Regions from separate parts of the Homo sapiens genome. Here region 2 is linked to region 1. The links come from fine-mapping of genetic effects on gene expression. A gene starts in region 1. The other region holds a variant in brackets. All regions are shown on one strand. Distances are from middle to middle.

Region 1 (9,295 bases):
AGCCTGTGGCCAAGCTGCCCCCGCGCCGGGACGACTGGCCTCCAGGATGCAGAGACAAGGGGGCCCGGGGCTCCACCGGCCGGAAGGTGGGAGTCAGCAAGGCGCCTGAAAAGTGAGCATGGTGCGTGGGGCCTGGCCCCCATGCAGCCGCCACACCGCCCTCTGTTCAAGGCAGGGCCAGCTCCGGGACCTCTGTCCTCCAGTTCTCCATCCCCCACCCCCGCCTCTTCATCCGTCCAGTGGGGCAGCCAGCCACTCTCCCTTCCCTGAAGGTGGCCCTTCCCCTGTTAAGGCTGCCACAGGGCACACCTGGGTTGGGGCTCCCCAAGGTGTGCCCAGCAGAAGTGCAATAGCCAGGAGGGTTGCCCCTCCTCATGGGAATGTGTCTGGGGTCTTGGTGCCACAGGGGCTGCAGCGCAGAGTAGGCAGATGGCCTTTGGCCCCCCGGCTCCGCTTCCTCAGGCCCTGCCGGGTCCCTTCCCTGGCTACCCCAAGGCTCAGGCATCCCTGGTGACCTGTGGTTCTGGGCTGGTGAGGGCACCTGAGCAACCTGGCACGGGCAGCCACCATCCTGGCCTCACCTCCACCCAACACTGGAACTCCAGCACCCCCAGCTACCTCCCAGGACAGACCCCTGTCTGACCACTGCCATGCTGACCTGACAGGCTCCGGCCTGCCCTTGGCCACCCACTTGGTCCCCTTGCTTCTGTTTTCTACCTCTCCAGGCCTGCCCACTACCCCCACCCCTGCTCCTCCTTTGTCAGTGCGATCCCTGCTGTGCTCAGGCCCTGCCCCCCAGGCCTGTCTGTAATTCTCCCAGCTTGGGGCAAGGGAGGGGTTTTGCTTCTTGTACCTACAGGGCAGCAGAAGCTTGATGCCCTTCAACACAGCTGCCAGCCCTGGGGGTGTGGGGCCCCTGGAGTGTGCTCTCCTCCAGTGTTCAGCCTTCTGGCACTGCAGGCCTAGGTTGGAGCAGCCTCGTGGAGTAGGGACGGACTAGTTCGGGCCCTGGGGTCTTGCTGGGGCCCATAGGCATGTGGGGCAGGAAGCTGGGCAGAGCTGGCCTGGCTCTGAGTGGCCACTGGGGGAAAGGCAGCCTTCTGTCTGCCAATCTGGGTAGGCCCAGTGGCCAAGCTCTCATGGGAGCCCCCTCCCCACTTTTTTTTTTAACCTGCCCCCATTGTTTCTGGTTGTGTGGTCATTTGATATGGGAACTGAAGGCCAGCCAGGGGAGGGGCTTGGCCAAAGTCACAGCAGGTTGATGGCAGCTCCAGAGCTGTCTTTGCCCCTTTGTGGCCCTGAGGACGGCTGGGTCTATAGGTAGGGCAGGGGTCAGGCAGGGAGTCCAGGGTGCCTGGAAGAGGTGGCCACAGCCTGTGGCTCCCTCCCTGGGGTCCTGCCTTCCAACCACGGCATTGCAGGGAGGATGAGGCTCAGAGGGGGTAGGTTTGGAGGGAGGCCATTTTCCAGGGTGGGTGGGAGTGGGCTGAGGGCTCGGCCCCACTGACCCTGGACGATGAGAATTTTGATGTTTGCCCGTGTGCGTGTGTCTCCTGGGTGTAGTGGATGCCAGTCTTGTTGCTGTGACAAGTAACAACCTTTTTTTTAAATTGTTTTTTATACAAACACTCGCAATCCGACATTTGGTGCTAAGGGTTTCCTGGTGCAGACGGTGGGCCTGGGGGCTGGGCTGGACCAGGGCGTGGGTCTCTGGGGTTGGGGTCCCTTGCTGCTCAGGGAGGCAGTACTGACTGGGCACTGCCTCTGCCCCCAGCACCCACCCTCCCCCATTCCCCAGGGAGAAGGGGCCCCACTGGGCTTGGCCTGCAGTAGTAGGGAGACAAGTTCCAGGAGCACTTTGGGGACTGGGGTTGCAGAACACTTCCTGTCTCTGGCTTCATCCTTGGGCCAGAAGGCTCCAACCCTCAGCAGCCCTTGCCAGATGTGCCAGGGAGTGGGTGTGGAGACCCGGACTCCCCCCACCCACGCACACCTCGGCCTGATGAGAGGATGGAGGCTGGGGCAGAGATGGGCGTGACCCAGCGTCAGAGGGTCGGGGGAGGCATTCCTTCCTGTGTCCCAGAGCTTCACTGGTGGAGCTGGAGGAGCCGGAGGTGGAGGGTGGGGTCTGGCAGCTGCTGCTGGGGCAGCCTCATGAGGGGAGGGGAGGGGAGGGGAGGGGAGCAGGCACTGGGCGGGGGCCTAGGTGCACTTTGTCCTTGCCACCAATGGCGGGAGGAGGGTGGACCTGAACACCTGCAGGGTGTGGTGCCTGCCCCAGCCTCTCAGGTACTTGGCCCTTGGGGAGAAGAGAAGAGGGTCTGGTTTTTGCTGGGGGTGAGTTTCCGGGACACTCCCAAAGCCCACAGATAATCCCTGGTGTGGGAAGAGGAGTCCTGGATACCTTGATGTTTAGCACTTTAACCCCCTTTGTCTTTAAGGTAGGCGTGGGGGCTACTGCCAGAAGTGGCTGTTGGGTCTGACCCCCTCCTTTCTGCCCTCCCTCTGCCACATGCTGGTCCGCAGAGCCCTCCTCCCAAGGGGTGGGGCCCTGGGTGGAGCTCAGCAGGGTCTGCCCACTCCCTACGCTGGCCCACATAGGCCTCCAGGAGCCCTCAGTGAGAGGGACCAGCATAGCTGACCCCCAGAGTGTGGTGGGCGCCGGCCCTGCCCGAGGCCCAGTCGGGGCCCTTTCTGCAGATCTACCTCTGGCTCAGCGCACGCCCCCTGCCCTGAGAACAGGAAAGGGCCCGGAAGGGCTGACTCACCGGGCCGACGCTCACACGAAAATGGGATGCACTTTATTTGCTGGTGCAAAGGCAGGTGAGGGTGCCTCCTGTGTGACCGTTGGCCCTCCTGCCTGGTGGCGCTGAAGGGAAGGAGCCAGTGAGCCTGACCCCGGGAGGGGCCGTCCCCGTGTGCCGCGTTTGGCGGGGCCCCAGGCGGCTCCCCCAGGCCCGGGTCTGGGGCCCCAGGCTTTCCCCTGCCTCGCGGCCGGGCGTCCCGTGCTTTGGGTTTCTTGGTTTGGGTTTTTTAATGCCAGTTCTCAGTACATAAGTGCATTTTGAAAGAGGTTCCAGCTATCACTTGTAACCATATATATATACATATATATTCTATCTACAAAGTGTTTATTTGCGAGATGTTTCAACGGTGAGTTCGGGCCCCGCCCGCCTTGTGACCATCTGTCCCCGGTCCTCGTCCCCGCCCCGCGCCCTGGTCCCGAGTGGCGTGGGGACGGGCCATCACTGTATGTATTAAAATGACTGTATCAAATAAATGTTTATTGATTTTTTTCCAGGGTTTTTGTGCGGCTCAGTTTGTGGTGAAAAACAGGGGGCGGGGCCCTCCAGGCACGTGGCGGAGGCTGCCGAACTACGGGTCCCCCATGCCCGCCGCGCGGCCTTGTGGGGCTTGTAGTCCGCGACGCGCGGCCTTGTGGGGCTTGTAGTCCGCGACGCGCGGCCTTGTGGGGCTTGTAGTCCGCGACGCGCGGCCTTGTGGGGCTTGTAGTCCGCGACGCGCGGCCTTGTGGGGCTTGTAGTCCGCGGTGGGCAAGAGAGGGACCCGCCAGCTCCCGGCGGCCCATGCGCGCCGCCCGGCCAGGCCCGCAAAGAGGCCTCCGAGCGCCATGGCTGCGCCCCCGGCCCGCGCGGACGCTGATCCTTCGCCCACGTCGCCACCTACGGCCCGAGACACACCAGGCCGGCAGGCTGAGAAAAGCGAGACCGCGTGCGAGGACCGGTAGGCGTGGGCCTCGCCTCCACTCCACTGGCGAGCGGGAAGGGGCTGCAGATCCGGCCGAGCTGGGCGGGTGGTCCGTCCCCGCCGCGAGCCCAAGTCCCCCACTCCCGGAGGCCAGGCGGCGGCGCCCCGTTCTCCCACGTGCCGGGTGGAACCCCGCGGGCTTGAAGCGGCCGGGAGGACGGACCTGGCCCAAGCCGGCAGGCTCCTCGGGGCTCGGGGAAGGAGTCCGGGTGCGCACCCCCAGCGTTGACCTTGGTCTCTGCCCCCGGTGGGTGGGGCCCTCGGCCTCGAGCGCCCGGCGGGCTGTGTGCCTGCTCGACTGTGCGAGTTGGTCTATGTTGTCGGCTCGGGGTGTGGCCCTGCCCGACCCGCGAGGCCAGGGCTTAGGATTTGGAGGTGCTGCGGCGCACGGTGCCTTCGGATTGCCTCGCACGCGCGTGGCACCTTCGAGCCTCTGCGGGGGCTTTGCAAGAGCATGAAGTGGGGAAGTTGTGGGGGTGCAGCGGGAGGAACCCGCCCCCACCCCGGTTCGTCACCCCGAGTGGCCCCTCTGGGAGCCGGGCCCTGCGCGGCGCCTTTGGGGCCGTGGCCGTCAGGGGGCGGTGGCCACGCAGTGCCCGGGGCTGCAAGAGGGCGCTCTGGGCGCTGCCCCTCCCTTCCGGGTCTGAAGTGTCCCTTGGGGAGCCCGCGGGGTCCCCAGGAAGGGGTTGTTCCCACTCAGGCGCCTCTTGCCTGGGTTCAGGCTGTGACTCCTGTCAGAAACGCTGTGAGCCAGGACTCCCTCAGAGATGGGCTGCGCTGGATGCCGCAGGGGGAAGGGTGTCCCGGCACAGGGTCGCTCCTCTCCAGGAGCTGCTGAGCAGAAAGAGCTTTCCCCTGGCCCTGCGTCCCTTCAGGTCCACACCCTCCCAGTGGGCAGTGACTAGGAACTTTGCATGGCTGGAGTCTAATAGGGCCTGAGTCTGTTCCTCTGCTGGTTCCAAAGAGGCGTTGTTTTTTTGTTTTGAGATGGAGTCTCACTCTGTCGCCCAGGCTGGAGTGCAGTGGCTCGATCTCGGCTCACTGCAACCTCCCTTTCCCGAGCTCAGTTCAAGCAATTCTCCTGCCTCAGCCTCCCGAGTAGCTGGAATTACAGGTGTGCGCCACCACGCCCGGCTAATTTTTTTTTGTATTTTTAGTAGAGAGGTATTTTGTCAGGTTGTCCAGGCTGGTCTCCAACTCCTGACCTCAGGTGATCTGCCCGCCTCGGCCTCCGTGGGATTACAGGCGTGAGCCACCGCGCCCAGCCACCAAAGAGGTTTTGATTTAACCCGAGGTGGGGCAGGCCAACGCTAGATAAGCACTGAGAGCTCTTGAGAAAGGCACTCCTGGATGACACAGGTTGGTGGCAGCAGCCATCTGGGCCTGCCCTGTGCACAGACGGTGGGCTGGGCACGGTGGCCCTCGCTGTGTCCCACGAGGCAGAGACTGTTGTTATCTTTCTTTGGTGTGGTTACCAAGGGACAGGAGGGAAGCTCCAGGCAGTGAGGATAGATTGCAGCACCCTTCTCCAGGGGCCCCGGTCTGCCCTGGAACTGCCTCTTGTCTTAGGCACATTTCTTGCACTTTGTGTCCTGATGCTTGTGCCATCGAGGACTTCCTCTGCCCCAGCCTAGGGCTTTTCTCACTGTTCCCCGAGCGTGTCCCCAACGTTCCTGCGTCTGCCCCTCTTCAACCTCTGCTGCTGCCCTTAGTGTTCCAGAGCAGGCTCCAGCTTGGAGGTCTGTGCACGGGTGGAGGTCTGTCCCCAGGGCTGGGGTTCCTCCACCACCGTTCCAGTGCCTCCTGCCACATCCTCCCGGCAATCAGTCTGTCCATCTTGCCTGTTGTTTATTGTCTGCTTGCCACTCGTGACTCTGTCCTGGGCACCTGCCCCCAGAGCTGGCCCGTGCTGGTGCAGGAACAGGTCCTTTGTGGTGTTAGCAGTGACTCCTGGCTGCGGTTGAGATGGAGTCTGGGGCTGTGGAAGTGGGGAGCAGAGGGAGGCTGCCCATGATCTGTGCAGGGCAGGTCCTGCTGAGGGAAGGTTTCCTGAGTGGTGGGGTGGGCCAGGGCAAGCCCCCAACCCCCAGTGCTCATCCAGCCTGAGAAAGCAGCCCTAATGACTCTCCCTGAGTCAGTCCGGCACCAGTGGGGTCAGGCCTGCATTGGCTCCTGTGGGCTAGCTCCTCCCTGCTCCCTCCTCCCCCCAGCCTCATTTTAGTTATCCAGCAAACTTCCCTTAAACCTGACCTGTCAGGAGGTGCCGTGCTACAGGCACCCAGCAGGAAGGTCCGTGGGCGATGGTGACCCCAGGGGTGGTAGAACAGGCCTGAACCACAGCAAGGGAGTGCCCGAGCCTTCCTTTCTCCCTGTGTGCTCTCTCCCGTGGCTGTTTCCTCAGTGTCGGTTTCACATGCCCTGCGCTCCCTGCTGCTGGACGTTTGCTTCTGGTTTCCTTGGCATTGTGGATGGTTCGTGAGGGGCAGCCCTGCCTCCAGGTCTCCACACATGCCTGTGCTTATTTTTCTTCCTTTCTTTTTTTTTTGGAGATAGAGTCCTGGGCTGGAGTGCAATGGCACCATCTCGGCTCACTGCAACCTCCGCCTCCCGGGTTCAAGCAGTTCTCCTGCCTCAGCCTCCCGAGTAGCTGGGACTACAGGCGCCCGCCACCACGCCCAGCTAATTTTTTGTATTTTTAGTAGAGACGGGGTTTCACCATGTTGGCCAGGCTGGTCTTGAACTCCTGACCTCAGATGATCTGCCCGCTCAGCCTCTGAAAGTGCTGGGATTACAGGCGTGAGCCACTGCACCCGGCTGCCTGTGTGTATTTCTTTTGTTTTGTTTTGTTTTGTTTTTGAGATGGAGTTTTGCTCTTGTTGCCCAGGCTGGATTGCAGTGGCGCAATCTCAGCTCACAGCAACCTCTGCCTCCCGGGTTCAAGCAATTCTCCTGCCTCAGCCTCCCAAGTAGCTGGGATTACAGGCATGTGCCACTACGCCCGGCTAATTTTGTGTTTTTAGTAGAGACAGGGTTTCTCCATGTTGGTCAGGCTGGTCTCAAACGCCCAACCTCAGGTGATCCACCTGCCTTGGCCTCCCAAAGTGCTGGGATTACAGGCATGTGCCACCGTGCCCAGCTAATTTTGTATTTCTAGTAGAGATAAGGTTTCTCCACGTTGAGGCTGGTCTCAAACTCCGACCTTGGGTGATCCGCCCGCCTCGGCCTCCCACAGTGCTGGGATGACAGGCGTGAGCCACCGCGCCCGGCCACCTGTGCCTATTTCTTGACGATGACATCAGTTATGGGGCCTGATCACCGATGAGGCATCTGCCTTGGACTTTATGAGCTGACCCACCTGTAATGAACCTGCTGTTAGTCCTTGAGGAGGAAACTGAGGCAAGCTGTGGCTCCGTGGAGGGGACTGAGCCACATTCGACTGTGCTGTGGCCCAGAGTAGGATGGCTGAAGGTGAGGGAAGGGCAAGGGGTGCCCTGAAGTGACTGAGGCAGCCTCCAGCACCACGGGCCTCAGACAGCCCCACCTGCAAGGAGGAAGCCTTAGGCAGAAGGTGCTCTGGGCAGCGCTTACCCCAGCGCGGCATCAGCACCTGTGGGTGGCGTGGGAATGGGAGTTCTCTGGACCGGCCCAGCTCAGGAAGTTAGAACCTGGGAGGAACACCAGTGAATAGGACCAGGGCAGGCTACCCCTCCCCACCGTGAGCGGCCCCTCCCTGCCGTGGGCTGCTGTGGCCGAGAGCAGCCCCGTGGAGGGGCATGTTGGGGACCACGTGGCCTGCAGCGAGGCGACGTGATTCCAGGGTGGGGCCTGGTGGTTCCATTCACAGCTGCGTGCCTGGGCTCCTCCGTCCCTCGCCTGGCCAGCACAGTGCTGGCTTCCCCAGGCCTGTAGCCTTGCCTCTTGGCCGGCTAGGGCAGCCAGGGTGCATGCCCATGCCAGGCAAGACCAGTCTGCGTCCACTCTGCTGTTCAGACAGCCCAGCCAGTGGCATGGCCCCCAGGAGCCCGGACTCTGCGCCCCTGCTCAGGACAGCCTCCGCCTCCCCGACCCTGGGCTGTCTCCTGCCCACTTCCCAAGTGAGGGATGTAGCCGCCTCCTGGGAGCAGAATGAGGAGAGGAAGCACCTGTGGACACAGACAGATGGGCCGGTCCTGCCTCTGAGGCAGCTCCCAGGAGTGGCCTACTATTGAGGAGTATGACCTCCATGTGGAGTCTTCCCTTTTCCCTGAGCTTCTGGCAGCCCCTGCCTCAGTACTAGAAGCTCCAAGAGAAACCCATGGTAGGAGGAAGCTGACACCCATGGCTGACCTGTCTGCCCCTGGGAGAGAGCTTAGGGCTGCCAGGACTTCTCTGTGCACATCCTTGACTGACTCTGCGGAGGGTGGGGCCGAAACCCTGTTTCTGTGGGCGGGGAGGTGGCTGTGTCCCCTGTGCCCTGCTGAGCCCTGGGCGGGGAGGTGGCTGTGTCCCCTGTGCCCTGCTGAGCCCTGGGCGGGGAGGTGGCTGTGTCCCCTGTGCCCTGCTGAGCCCTGGGCGGGGAGGTGGCTGTGTCCCCTGTGCTCTGCTGAGCCCTGGGTGGTGAGCCCTGGGTGGCTGCAGGTCCCTGCAGGATCCCCCGTGAGTGGGGGTAGGGCAAGGCAGTTATTTTCAGATGGTGCCAGAGGGTGGAGTTTCAGATTTGTTTATGCCTGTCGGAAGCACTCTGGGGCTAGGGATGGGGTGCCCAGCTCAGCACTGACGTTCAGGACACCTGGCCAAGAGGCGCCTCAGATATCCTTGTCCTGCTGCGGGGGGTTCACTCTGTAGCCCCAGGCAGGCCGGGGTACTGTAGCTTTTTCCAGGGGATCCAGGAGGGGTGCAGGCACACGGCGCACAGTGGTCCTCCGCAGGCCTGCGGTCCTAGGCTGGCCGAATGTGCCAGCCCACACACAGGAGGGGGCAGTTCACACCGAGGGCTGGCCCGAGGATTGTCAGGGCCACACCAGGCAAAGCCAGCGCTATTAATATCAGGCATACACAAGCCCCCAGCTGGGTGATCCTCTTATGCCTGTGGCCTTGGCCTCTGAGGACGGCAGTGAGTGCTGTTCCCTCAGTACGGTGGAGGCTTCAAGGGCCTCCTAGCTGCTGTGCCTCTGCTGACATTTGGCAGGCAGCTTCTGCCAGCCAAGGGTCTCACCCCAGCCACCCGGCTCTGCACCCACTGTGCTGCCCACAGGAGTGGTCCTGCCCATGGAAGGGCCAGTTCAGGTGGCCGGAGCTCCTGAGCTGCCCTAGGGGACTGCTGTGGGTCTGAGGTGGTGATGTCCCCCACGGCTGCCTGCGCCTGAGCCCCCACGCATCCACCCCTGGGGCCACTCTGCTGTTCAGGAGCACCCACCCGTGTCCTCGACCATGAGCAGCCCCCCAGCTTACCCTGGCATCAGGATCTCAGGGTGCCGGGCCCTTGGAGCAGAAGGCAGGTGAGTCTCGACTGGAGGTCTCTGCCGTGAGGGGCACCCACTTGTGCTGT
Region 2 (11,791 bases), 28 kb after region 1:
GGGGCCACGGGTCAGCAGGCAGGCAGGGAAGGGGGCTTCAGGAGGCTCATCTGGTTGGTCCGAGCCAGAGCCATCACACACAGCCTCCTCCTCAGCTTTATCTCTACAGGGACCTCTGCAACTCTGCAGCGGCCACCATGGACATTCTGCAGAAACCAGGCCCACTGGAGTCTGCAGCATGGCGCCAAAGGCAGGCCCAGCACATCCCATGAGCTACGGAGTGCGGGCAGCTCTGAGCCCTCAGCCAGCACAGGGACATCAGACCCGTTCCCCCTGCTCCCCTATGCAGGGCGCCACCCACAAGGTCTAGGACACGCAAGAGACTGACTTCCCATGGTCCACATGTGGATTCCGTAGTCTGGCTGCTGGCCTCCCAAGGGACCCACAATGGTCCACGTGTGGATTCCGTGGCCTGGCTGCCGGCCTCCCAGGGACCCACAATGGTCCACGTGTGGATTCTGTGGCCTGGCTGCCGGCCTCCCAGGGACCCAACCCTCCTGAGCCAGAGGGTCCCTCTGGTCCAGTCAGTCCTTCCTCCAGGGACCTAACGAATCTGGCTCTGCCTGAATCATCGATGACGGGGCAAAGGCGAGTGGGGCAGATGGGAGCTCTGGCAAACACAGGAGGAGGGGTCGTGGGAGAGCCCCCGTCCCCAGTAGCTGGGTGCTCACACATGCACAATCTACTCTCTGACTGTGGCTCATTGGGCTGGTCCTATCATCTGTGGTTCTAAAGGTCCAAAAAGGGCTATGGAAAGGACAGGTGTGCTGGAAGGAATGTGGAGAACGACCTCAAGATGGGAGGGGGGAGACTGGCCCCATCAATCCAGCTCAGAGCCCGGGAAAAGTGCAGGAACACAGACAAATAACCCCAACACGGCGAAGGACACACCTCCGAGAACCAGAACGGCAGCGTCCACACGACGAGACGACCAGGCGAGAAACACCGCGGAGGACACGGTGTCAACCTCGGAAGGGGCCTCCTATGCTTTCCACACCAAATTCTCCCACGGGAGAAACCCTGCCACAAGGCCCAGGAAACCACAGACCCCCAAGCCAACCATGCCCAGCACAGACACCAAGGAATGACAGTGACGCCGGTGACGCCAGGAGGACGCGGCCCCGCCTCTCTTCTGGCAGGTGAGATCAGAGTCCTACTGCAGCCTCAAGGCTGGGAGCACAGAGTGTGGACCAGACCCCGAGGCCAAGACGGTAACACAGCTCTGCCAGGCAGCACCTGCCTCCGGCCCCTCAAGCACAGGTAGGAAAGGGGCAGCCCCCCTTCTCCTCGCCCACCTGACCGGCTGCAGTCACCCCTCACTGGACCAACCTGACCGACAGCCCTGAGGCAGCTCCACCGTGCAGTTCACGCGGTCATGCCGCGGAATGTCCACAACACAGACATGGAACAGAACCCCATACATGCTATTAAAAAAGGGAAAAAAACAGAAGACCGTAGCTACACTGCTTTAAATACTGCATGCTACGCACTTCGTGGGTCAAGGGTCGACGCTGGGTGGGCGTGGAGGCAGGAGGGGCCCCAGCAAGGCCAGGGCAGGCAGGAGGCTGCCTTCCCATCTCTGTGACTACAGTTCATGATTCTAAGGTTGGCGTGGCCAGGCGCCGGCTCCTCCTCTGACCACAGCTCCTCCTGGATTTAGTTGAACCCGTCAGTGTGGTAGCTGGGGTGGGAGTCGGCTGTGAGCTGGGTGGTCTCGGTGGCGGATGCCGGCTGTATGACGATCGGCGTGTCTGTGGCCTCTGAAAAGCAAGCACACAGGGCACTGCACGAGGGCCACAGCCTGGCGCGCACCCAACGCTGGTCCTGTGGAGCGACTTTCGGGCACCTGGACAAACTCTCCACCGGGAGAGGCTACTCGCTGACCTCCACCCCACACGGCTTTCCTCCGTCGCCTTGGGTCACCGCCAGCCCTCGGCCCTCAGCCCCGCCCCAACTGCCTGCCGCCCTGCCCCGCCTCGCAGTCCCTGGGATCTACGGCTACCGCAGGTCACGGCGGGGACAGCTCTATGCGCCTGCTTTACCTCAGGGTCCACGTTCACACCTCAACAGTCCCAGCTGCCACCACAAACACTCGCGGCACAGTGTCAGTGCCCTCCTGTTTGACAAGACAGGTTGACACCATTCAGGGCCCATTCTGGCTCTGCCCCACACACACACACGGGCCCTGGGGCGGGCACTCACCCCTCTCGTCAGACTGCAGCTGTGCCTCCAGATCCTCGGGGGACACGTAGAACTCCGTCTCCTCGCCTTCAGGCGCCTTGGGCTTACACTTCCCGCAGCAGCAGTTGAAGCAGCAGCACAGACAGCAGCAGCAGTAGCAGCACGTGAGGAGGCCGCAGAAGACAAACAGGGCCTGGGGGGAGAAGAAGGTGGTGTTGCATGGCCTCCGAGGCCCCTGGAGAGGGAGGCGCAGGACTCCCAAATGCCCTCAGCAGAAGGCAGGGGGTGCGTTCCAGGTGGGGATACTGCCTTCCAGACAGGAAGCAGAAGGAAAGAACTGAAGAAGGGAGGAGGAGAGACAGAAAGAAACCCGCAGCTTAAAGAAAAGCAGCCTCCAAGACGGGCGTGGTGGCCCATGCCTGTCATCCCAGCACTCCAGGAGGCCGAGGCTGGCGGATCACGAGGTCAGGAGATCGAGACCATCCTGGCTAACACGGTGAAACCCTGTCTCTACTAAAAATACAAAAAATTAGCTGGACGTGGTGGCGGGCACCTGTAGTCCCAGCCACTCGGGAGGCAGAGGCAGGAGAATGGCGTGAACCCGGGAGGTGGAGCTTGCAGTGAGCCAAGATCGCGCCACTGCACTCCAGCCTGGGAAACAGAGCGAGACTCCGTCTCAAAAAAAAAACAAAGCAGCCTCCAGGCTGGGCACAGTGGTTCACGCCTCAACTCCTGCAGTTCTGGAGCTGAAGTGGGAGGATCACTTGAACCCAGGAATTCAAAGTTAAAGTGAGCCAGGATCTCACCACAGCACTCCAGTCTGGGCAACAGAGCGAGACTCTGTCTAACATTAACTAAATAAAAAGTACTTTATAAGGATTCTAGTGAGGAGGCCGACCAGTCAAAGCCAAATACAGGCTTCTCACAAATGCCATGCAGTGATTCCAACCCTCTGGCCTCATATATGACATTTGGAACAAAACGAGGAAACGAAGAAATGCGGATGTAACATCGAGGCTTATTTCCTCCTGTCTCACGAAGGACTGGGAGCCATTTACAGAAGAAACCCTGGCGGCTCCGCACGGCTCTTCCCTGGGACAATCTGTACGCTATGGCTTGTTCCAGGCAGGACACCAAGCCAGTGACAGAGCTTCGCCCATCACACAGGTGAGGAGAAAGGCTCCATATGCCCAGAAGCCTTTTCTCAGGAGTGTAGAGTTGCTGGCATCAACGCATGGGCTCTGCAATGCTGGGAACCCTGCAGGCGTGGAGTGACCCGGGTGCCCACATGGCAGGAGAGACTCGGGTGCCCGCACGGCAGGAGTGACTCGGGCGCCCGCACGGCAGGAGTGACTCGGGTGCCCGCACGGCAGGAGAGACTCGGGTGCCCGCACGGCAGGAGAGACTCGGGTGCCCGCACGGCAGGAGTGACTCGGGTGCCCGCACGGCAGGAGAGACTCGGGTGCCCGCACGGCAGGAGTGACTCGGGTGCCCGCACGGCAGGCAGCTCGCCCTCACCTTGGCCCACCAGCTGGACAGCACGAAGTAGGTGTTCACGTTCTCTTCCCCAAACTGCTCGGCCACGTAGAGACCCAGCGAGCCGTACTTGTCGTAGATGTTCCTTTTTGTGGCGTCCGTGAGGATGGCGTGCGCGTTGTTGATCTCCTTAAACTTGTCCGCGGCCTCCGGGTTGTCGGGGTTCTTGTCGGGGTGATATTTCAAGGCAAGCTTCCTGCAAACCAAAACCATGTCCTGGCTCTACCCTGGACTTTGTTCCACCCGCACCCGCCGCCGCGTCCATCCCACCCGCACGCACTGCCGGGTGCAGTGGAAGGCAGGTCCACCCAGGCCACCTCACTGTCCGACTCTCCAGGGCTGCAGGGGCCAGGGACAAAAGCAAGCTCCGCGGTTGTTTCAGGTAAACCTCCTCACCCTGACCCAGCCTCAGAGGAGGGAGCCCCAAGGGCTGTGAGTGCCACGGCACATCTAAGTTCAGCGGCACCAAGGCCAGCCCTGGTGTCCCAGCCGCTAACTGCACAAGTGCCAAGTGAACGGTAAGCACGGCGGGGCGTAATGATGGCACTTTAAGAAGTGTTTTATGAACTACACGATGCTAGCACACGAGAGGAGGACTATCTGAATTGTCTGGATTAGTGATGGTGTCTCTTACAGGTTACTCAATGAAACTGTACC[C/T]AAGAGTGCAGTTCTTCAAGCTCAATCAGAAGGCCACAACAGAGTGAGGGGTCTCTGTCATCACTGTGCTAAAACAAGGAGACCACAGGACCATGCCAGCGCTCTGCGGCTCCTGTGAGGCCTCAAACAGGTTCAGACCCTGACTCCCTATGGAACTGTGGACAGTGTGTCAGTTTCTACTAAGTGCTATTTTTTGTTGGCAAGAGAACATGAATACCATAACTTTAAGCTATAAGGAGCACATTACACATACAAAGGTGTTACCGAGCTGTGACCAGTTCAACGCTGAGTCGGCCAGGATAAAGTATGTGCAATGGTTCTTGGTAAAATGCAGACTAAACCACACGGGGCATGTGTGTCTTCCTGGGGGGATGTGGGGGCCACACTTGTCCACTTACCGATAGGACTTTTTAATGTCATCTGAGGTTGCGTTCTTGTCCAACCCAAGGACGTGGTACAATGACTCCCCAGAGGTAGACAGTGAGCGCTGTCTCTGGTCTGCCATGTTAGGCTATTCTAGAAGAAAAAATAAAAAGAAAGTATCACAAAGTATAGATGAAAGTACCAAGGGCAGAGCTGATGGACTTTATTCCATAAGACCGTTCAAAGCAAAAGAATCCAACACTGCCTTGTGGAGTTTGCCACGTGCACAGACAGACGCCATGGCATGGAGAAGTGTGAGACGGCAGAATACGGCCACCCCAAGAGATCCTGAAGAACTGCAGCTGTGTACTGTGGGCCGGCACAGGGGCTCACACCTGTAGTCCCAGCATTTTGGGAGGCTGAGGCGGGAGGACCGCTTGAGCCCAGGAGTTTGAGGCTGCAGTGAGCTATGATCACTCCACTGCACTGGAGCCCAGGAGACAGGGACCCTGTTCCTTAAAAACAAATATATAAATAAACAAAATAAATTAATTAATTAAAATAAACATGCATATTGTAATCCTTACAGCAACCTCTGCATAAAAAATGCAAAGAGGTATAAGCTAAAAAGTTACAAGAAAAATGAAAAAGTAACTCAACACAGGAAACAAATAGAAAATTAGTTGGAAGATCTAAATCCAAACATATCAACAATTAAATTCAATGTTAGTGGACAAAAAACTCCAATTAAAGTAAGGGACTGACAGAATGGATAAAAATGCAAGACCCAACTTTAATTTTAATACTTTCTCAGAAATCGACAGAACAGACCAAAAATCAGGAAAAACATCGATGTTCTGAACAACACTATCAACCACCATGACCTGATCTTCACAGAACACCCAACATCTAGAGAACACACAGTTTCTTTCTTTCTTTTTTGGGGGGGGGGACAGTTTTGCTCTTGTTGCCCAGGCTGGAGTGCAATGGCACGATCTCGGCTCACCACAACCTCCGCCTCCCCGGTTCAAGCAATGCTCCTGCCTCAGCCTCACACAGGAGTAGCTGGGATTACAGGCATGTGCCACCACACCCAGCTAATTTTGGTATTTTTAGTAGAGATGGGGTTTCTCCATGTTGGCCAGGCTGGTCTTGAATTCCCGACCTCAGGCTGAACTCCCGACCTCAGGTGATCCGCCTGCCTCAGCCTCCCACAGTGCTGGGGTTATAGGTGTGAGCCACAGCGCCTGGCAAATACACATTGTTTCTACATTGTTTCTAACTAATCAACCACCATGACGTGACAGTCACAGAACACCCAACATCTAGAGAACACACATTGTTTTTAACTGAATGCTGTACACTAAGACAAGCCACATGTTAGGGCTTCAAGCTGGTTTCAATAAACGTAATGGAATGAGGTCACACACAGCACTATCCCTGACTTAGCTACAAACTGGAAACCCAGGAGGAAGATACTCTTGATATTCAACAACACACCTCCGGCTAACATGTAGCTCAAAGAAGAAATCCCAGGGGAACTTAGAAAATGTTTTGAATTGAATAATAAATACAGTGTACATGACGGTTAATTTCATGTCTCCTTTGCTGCATCGTGGGGCACCCAGATGAAACATGACTTCAGGGTGTGCCTGGGAGGGTGTTTCTTGGTAAGAGCAGCACCTGAGCTGGGGGCTCCATGAAGCCAACTGCGCTGCCCTGTGCAGGTGAGTGTCGTCCCAGTCCACGGGGGTCCCGAATAGAAAGGGGTGGGAGGAGGAGTTGGCCTGGGTTTTCCTTCTCGCCTGCCAGCCTGAGCGGGGCCACGTGTCTCCTCCTGTCCTTGGACTGTTATTATCCCACTGCTTTCCTCAATCTTCAGCAAATGGCAGAGCATGAGATTCCGTCTCCATAATGACGTGGGCCAATTCCTCATAACAAATCTCCTTTAGAAAGAGACACAGATAATGGCAACGTTCCTCTGCAGAATGCTGACTAGTACAACACGTTAATCAAGGCCTAAGGCTCCGCCTCAGGAAGCTACAAAGTAACAGGATAAACCCAACATAAATGCAAGCAAGGAAATCATAAGGAACAGAAATCCATGAAAACAAACAGATAACTTCAACAAAGCCAAAAGAGTTGGTTCTTTGAGCAACATGAGGAAAGACATCACTACAGATCCTAGAGGCGTGAAAAGGATAAAATACGAACAACTTCATGCCAAGAAATTAGAAAAATTAGATGAAATGGACAAATATCTTGAAAATTACAATTTACCAAGACTGACATGAAATAGAAAATCTGAATAGGCCTGCATCTGTTAATAAAGTTATATTTGTAATAAAAAATCCCCAGAAGGCCAGGCGCCGTGGCTCACGCCTGTAATCCCAGCACTTTGGGAGGCCAAGGCGGGCAGATCACGAGATCAGGAGATTGAGACCATCCTGGCTAACACAGTGAAACCCCATCTCTAATAAAAATACAAAAAAATTAGCCGGAAGTGGTGGCAGGCACCTGTAGTCCCAGCTACTCGGGAGGCTGAGGCAGGAGAATGACGTTAACCCGGAAGGCGGAGCTTGCAGTGAGCAGAGATCGCACCACTGCACTCCAGCCTGGGCGACACAGCGAGACTCCGTCTCAAAAAAAAAAAAAAAAAAAACCAGATAAAATTCCAGGCCCAGATTTTTTTTTTAACCAAATATTTAGGAAATGACATCAATATGGGGTTTTGAGATAGTCTCGCTTTGTTGCCCAGGCTGGAGTGCGGTGACGCGATCTCGGTGATACTGGCAGGAGGCAGCTGAATGCCAGGCAGATGGGGCGGGTTCCCGGTGAAACCCACCTCCAAGCCAAAGACAGTTTAAAGCCTGACAGCTGAGCTACAAGTTAAATCCTCAGACTAGATGAAGAACTTGCCTTCCTGTTTGCCACACTTTCCTCTGATTGATCCCCATCCTTCACCTATTTTACACATACCTACCCTTTCCTAATTTTTATTTTTGAGGTGGAGTCTCGCTCTGTTTGCCCAGGCTGGAGTGCAGTGGTGTGACCTCAGTTCACTGCAATCTCTGCCTCCCGGGTTCAAGCGATTCTTCTGCTTCAGCCTCCCAAGTCACTGGGACTACAGGCACGCGAACCACGCCCAGGTAATTTTTGTATTTTTAGTAGAGATGGGGTTTCACCACATTGACCAGGATGGTCTTGAACTCCTGACCTTGTGATCCGTCTGCCTCAGCCTCCTAAAGTGCTGGGATTACAGGCGTGAGCCACCGTGCCCGGCCTCTTATAATTGGTTTTCTACACTGTCATGCCCACTTTAACCTTTTCTGCATACTCACAAACCCATCAGCAAGCTCTGCAAGCACTCCGCATCCTGAGTCCATAAAAAGCCCCAGACCCAGCCACACAGGCGGACTTTCCTGCCTTCAGGTAGGGGAACCACCCCTGCATCCCCTGGTCCGCTGAAAGCTGTTTCACTGCTCAATAAAGTTCTTCTCCGCCCTCCTCACCCTTCAATGTCCAGTGTATCCTTGATCTTGAGTGCGGTACATGAGCTCGGGAATGGCCGAACACAGTACAAGCTATAACACAGGTGAGTTGGGGCACGCCAGTGTGGCCAAGCAGGGCCCAGGTGGGGCATCACTGGCCAGGGGTCCCCGGCTTGCAAAGTGACCGAGAAGAAAAATCCTAAGTCATCAACTCACTGCAACCTCCGCCTCCCAGGCTCAACCCATTCCCATGCCGCAGGCACGGGACTACAGGCACGCACCACTGCACCCAGCTAATTTTTGTATTTTTAGAGACAGGGTTTTGCCATGTTGTCCAGGCTGGTCACGGACTCCTGGCCTCAGTCAATCCCCCCCTCGGCCTCCCAAAGTGCTGCGATTACAGGCATGAGCCACCGTGCCCGGTTTTTTGTTTTTGTTTTTAAGTTAAATAGGCATGGTGGCTCATGTCTGTGGTCCTAGTGACACAGGAGGTTGAGATAAGAGGATGGCTGAGCCCAGAAGCTCGAGGCTGCAGTGAGCCATGATCGTGCCACCACACTGTAGCCTGGGTGACACAGTGAGACCTTGTTTCAAAAAAAGAAAAAGAAATAACAAGACCTATGAAATCTGTACGTTGAAAACCACAAATTGCTAAGATACTAAAGATAAGAAAAAGATTCCTCATGTTCACGGATTAGAAGCCTCGATATAAAGAAGTCAGTTCTCCCCAAACTGATCTGTAGACTTGACAGAAGCCTAACCCTAATCCAAGAGGATTTTTTTTTGCAGAAACTGATACTGATTTTTTTAAATGTATAAGGAAATGTAGCAGACAGATTAGCCACAGCAACATTAATAAAAAGAACAAAAGTTAGAGAATTTACCCTATTGATTTCAAGACATATACTATATATCTACAGTAATCAAGACCATCTGGTACTGAGGAAAAGACACACACACAACAGCAGAATCGAGTTCAGATAGATTCATACTGAAAGGCACAGAAGGGGAGAAAATATTTACATTATGTACGTATAAAAAACAATTCACAAGTGGAATAAAGAACTCTTACACAAGTCAATTACTAAGGCAAAAAACTCCATTTTTAAAAACGGCCAGGTCGTTCTGGCTCAAGAGCGCAGAATGACTTGGAGGCAGTGAGAGTGTAGGAACGGATGGACTTGGCAGATTTTCTTTTCATTCTTACCATTTCAGGATAGAATCCAAAATCACTCAACACATAAAGCTGAGAAAATGTTAACTCATTCTTTCTTTTCCCCGCCTGACTTTATTGCCCGGGCTGGAGTGCAGTGGTCACATTTCAGCTCACTGCAACCTTGACCTCCTGGGCTCAGCTGATCCCCCCACCTCAGCCTCCTGAGTAGCTGGGACTACAGGTGTGCAATACCACGCCCAGCTATTTTTTAAAATTTTTATAGAGTCAGGATCTTGTTGGTCTCAAACTCCCAGACTCAAGCAATCCGCCTGCTACAGCCTCCCAAAGTGCTGGGATCACAGGTGTGAGCCACCCTACCCAGCCTAATTTTTTTTTTTAGAAACAAGGTTTTTCTCTGTTGCCCAGGCTGGAGTGCAGTGGTGCGATCTTGGCTCACTGCAGCCTTGAAATCCTGGACTCAAGAAAGCCTCCCTTCTCAGCATCCCAAGCAGCTAAGACTACAGGAATGTGCCACCATGCCCAGCTAACTTTAAAATTTTCTATAGAGACACGGTCTGGCTTTGTTGCCCAGGCTGGTCTCAAGTGATCCTCCTGCCTCAGCCTCCCAAAGTGCCAGGATTATAGGTGCAAGCCACTGCTCCTCACCAAAATGTGACTTATTCTTTTTTTTTTCTTTTTTGAGACAGAGTCTCACTCTGTTGCCCAGGCTGGAGTGCAGTGGTGCAATCTCAGCTCACTGCAACCTCCACCTTCCAGGCTCAAGCGATTCTCCTGCCGTAGCCTCCTGAATAGCTGGGACTACAGGCACGTACCACCACGCCTGGCTAATTTTTGTATTTTTAGTAGAGATTGGGTTTTGCCATGTTGGCTAGGCTGGTCTGGAACTCCTGACCTCAGGTGAGCCACCCGCCTCAGCCTCCCAAAGTGCTGGGGATTACAGGCATGAGCCACCATGTCCGGCTAAAACCTAGATTTTTAGAAAGGAATGAAGACCACTGGAAATGGTAAATACCTAGGTAAAACACCATTTTTTGCTTTTTTGTTTGTTTGGAGACAGGGTCTTGCTCTGTCACCCAGGCTGGAATGCAGTGGTGTGATAAGGGATCATGGCAGCCTCAACCTCTCAGACTCAAGTGATCCTCCCAACACAGCCTCCTGAATAGGTGGGACTACAGGCGTGAGCCACCATGCCAGCTAAGTTTTTAGAAATTTTTTGCAGAGACGGGGTCTATGTTGCTCAGGCTGATCTTGAATTCCTTGGCTCAAGTGATCCTCCTGCCTTGGGTCATGGTCACCAAAGTGCCGAGATCACAGGAGCCAACCCTTTCTGATGTCTATTTTTTTTTTTTTTTTGAGACAGAGTCTCACTCTGTCACCCAAACTGGATGGAGTGCAATGGTGCAATCTTGGCTCCATGCACCCTCCACCACCCAGGTTCAAGCGATTCTCCTGCCTCAGCCTGCCAAGTGGCTGGGATTACAGGCGCGCGCCACCACACCCAGCTAATTTTTTTGTATTTTTAGTACAGATGGGCTTCACCATGTTGGCCAGGATAGTCTTGAACTCCTGACCTCAGGTGACCCGCCTGCCTCGGCCTCTCGAAGTGCTGGGATTACAGGCGTGAGCCACCAACCTGGACTGCCTATTTCCTTGGGGTAATGAGTCCGGGAGTTTGCCACCTGATGTTTGAAGTAGCACCTCACAACTTCATTCTTCCTAAACTTGGTTTAAATTTCAAGGGGGCCGGGAGTGGTGGCTCACGCCTGTAATTCCAGCACTTTGGGAGGCTGAGGTGGTTGAATCACCTGAGATCAAGAGTTTGAGACCAGCCTGGCCAACGTGGTGAAACCTCATCTCTACTACAAATACAAAAATTAGCTGGGTGTGACGGTGTGCATCTGTAATCCCAGCTAGTTGGGAGGCTGAGGCAGGAGGATGGCTTGAACCCGGGAGGAGGAGGTTGCAGTGAACTGAAATTGCACCACTGGACGTCAGCCTGGGTGACAGAGTGAGACCCTGTCTCCAAAAAAAAAACTTTCAAGGGGATCCCATGTCAACAGAAAGGTTATAACACAGTTAAAGGAGAGGCCTGGTGTGCAGCCGCAGCTACACGAGCAGCACGTGCTGCAACCTGCTGCAAGTGACGAGCTGCCATCAGCGTTATTCGCAGTCTTCATTTCTGGAGGGCTAAGTTCCAACCTTCAGTCAGAACTCTTTTTTTTTTTTTTTGAGACGGAGTCTCGCTCTGTCTCCCAGGCTGGAGTGCAGTGGCACTATCTCGGCTTGCTGCAAGCTCCGCCTCCCGGGTTCACGCCATTCTTCTGCCTCAGCCTCCTGAGTAGCTGGGACTACAGGCACCCGCCACCACGCCCGGCTAATTTTTTGC

Evidence for each region. PIP is the estimated chance that this variant, and not a neighbour inherited with it, causes the effect.
Region 2: its variant is fine-mapped to the expression of UCKL1 in whole blood (INTERVAL, PIP above 0.99).

What each region holds. Positions count from the first base shown.
Region 1 is chr20:63,950,709-63,960,003 of GRCh38, reverse strand. It overlaps UCKL1 (uridine-cytidine kinase 1 like 1), which reads left to right and starts at 3,588. Exons shown (of 15, transcript NM_017859.4): 1 at 3,588-3,744. The coding sequence starts at 3,632. It overlaps ZNF512B (zinc finger protein 512B), which reads left to right. Exons shown (of 17, transcript NM_020713.3): 17 at 1-3,300. The coding sequence ends at 116. It overlaps UCKL1-AS1 (UCKL1 antisense RNA 1), which reads right to left and starts at 6,620. Exons shown (of 1, transcript NR_027287.2): 1 at 3,019-6,620. RefSeq lists enhancers at 1,629-2,514, 2,515-3,402, 3,432-3,491 and silencers at 2,822-3,031, 3,622-3,991, 4,092-4,141, 4,192-4,501.
Region 2 is chr20:63,921,434-63,933,224 of GRCh38, reverse strand. DNAJC5 (DnaJ heat shock protein family (Hsp40) member C5) reads right to left here. Exons shown (of 5, transcript NM_025219.3): 2 at 4,773-4,890; 3 at 3,700-3,913; 4 at 2,203-2,374; 5 at 1-1,760. The coding sequence starts at 4,879. The coding sequence ends at 1,657. Among named protein-coding and RNA genes, the nearest start is that of MIR941-5, 7.5 kb to the right of the region's middle. RefSeq lists an enhancer at 488-989. The variant C/T (reference allele first, on the strand shown) is at 4,375.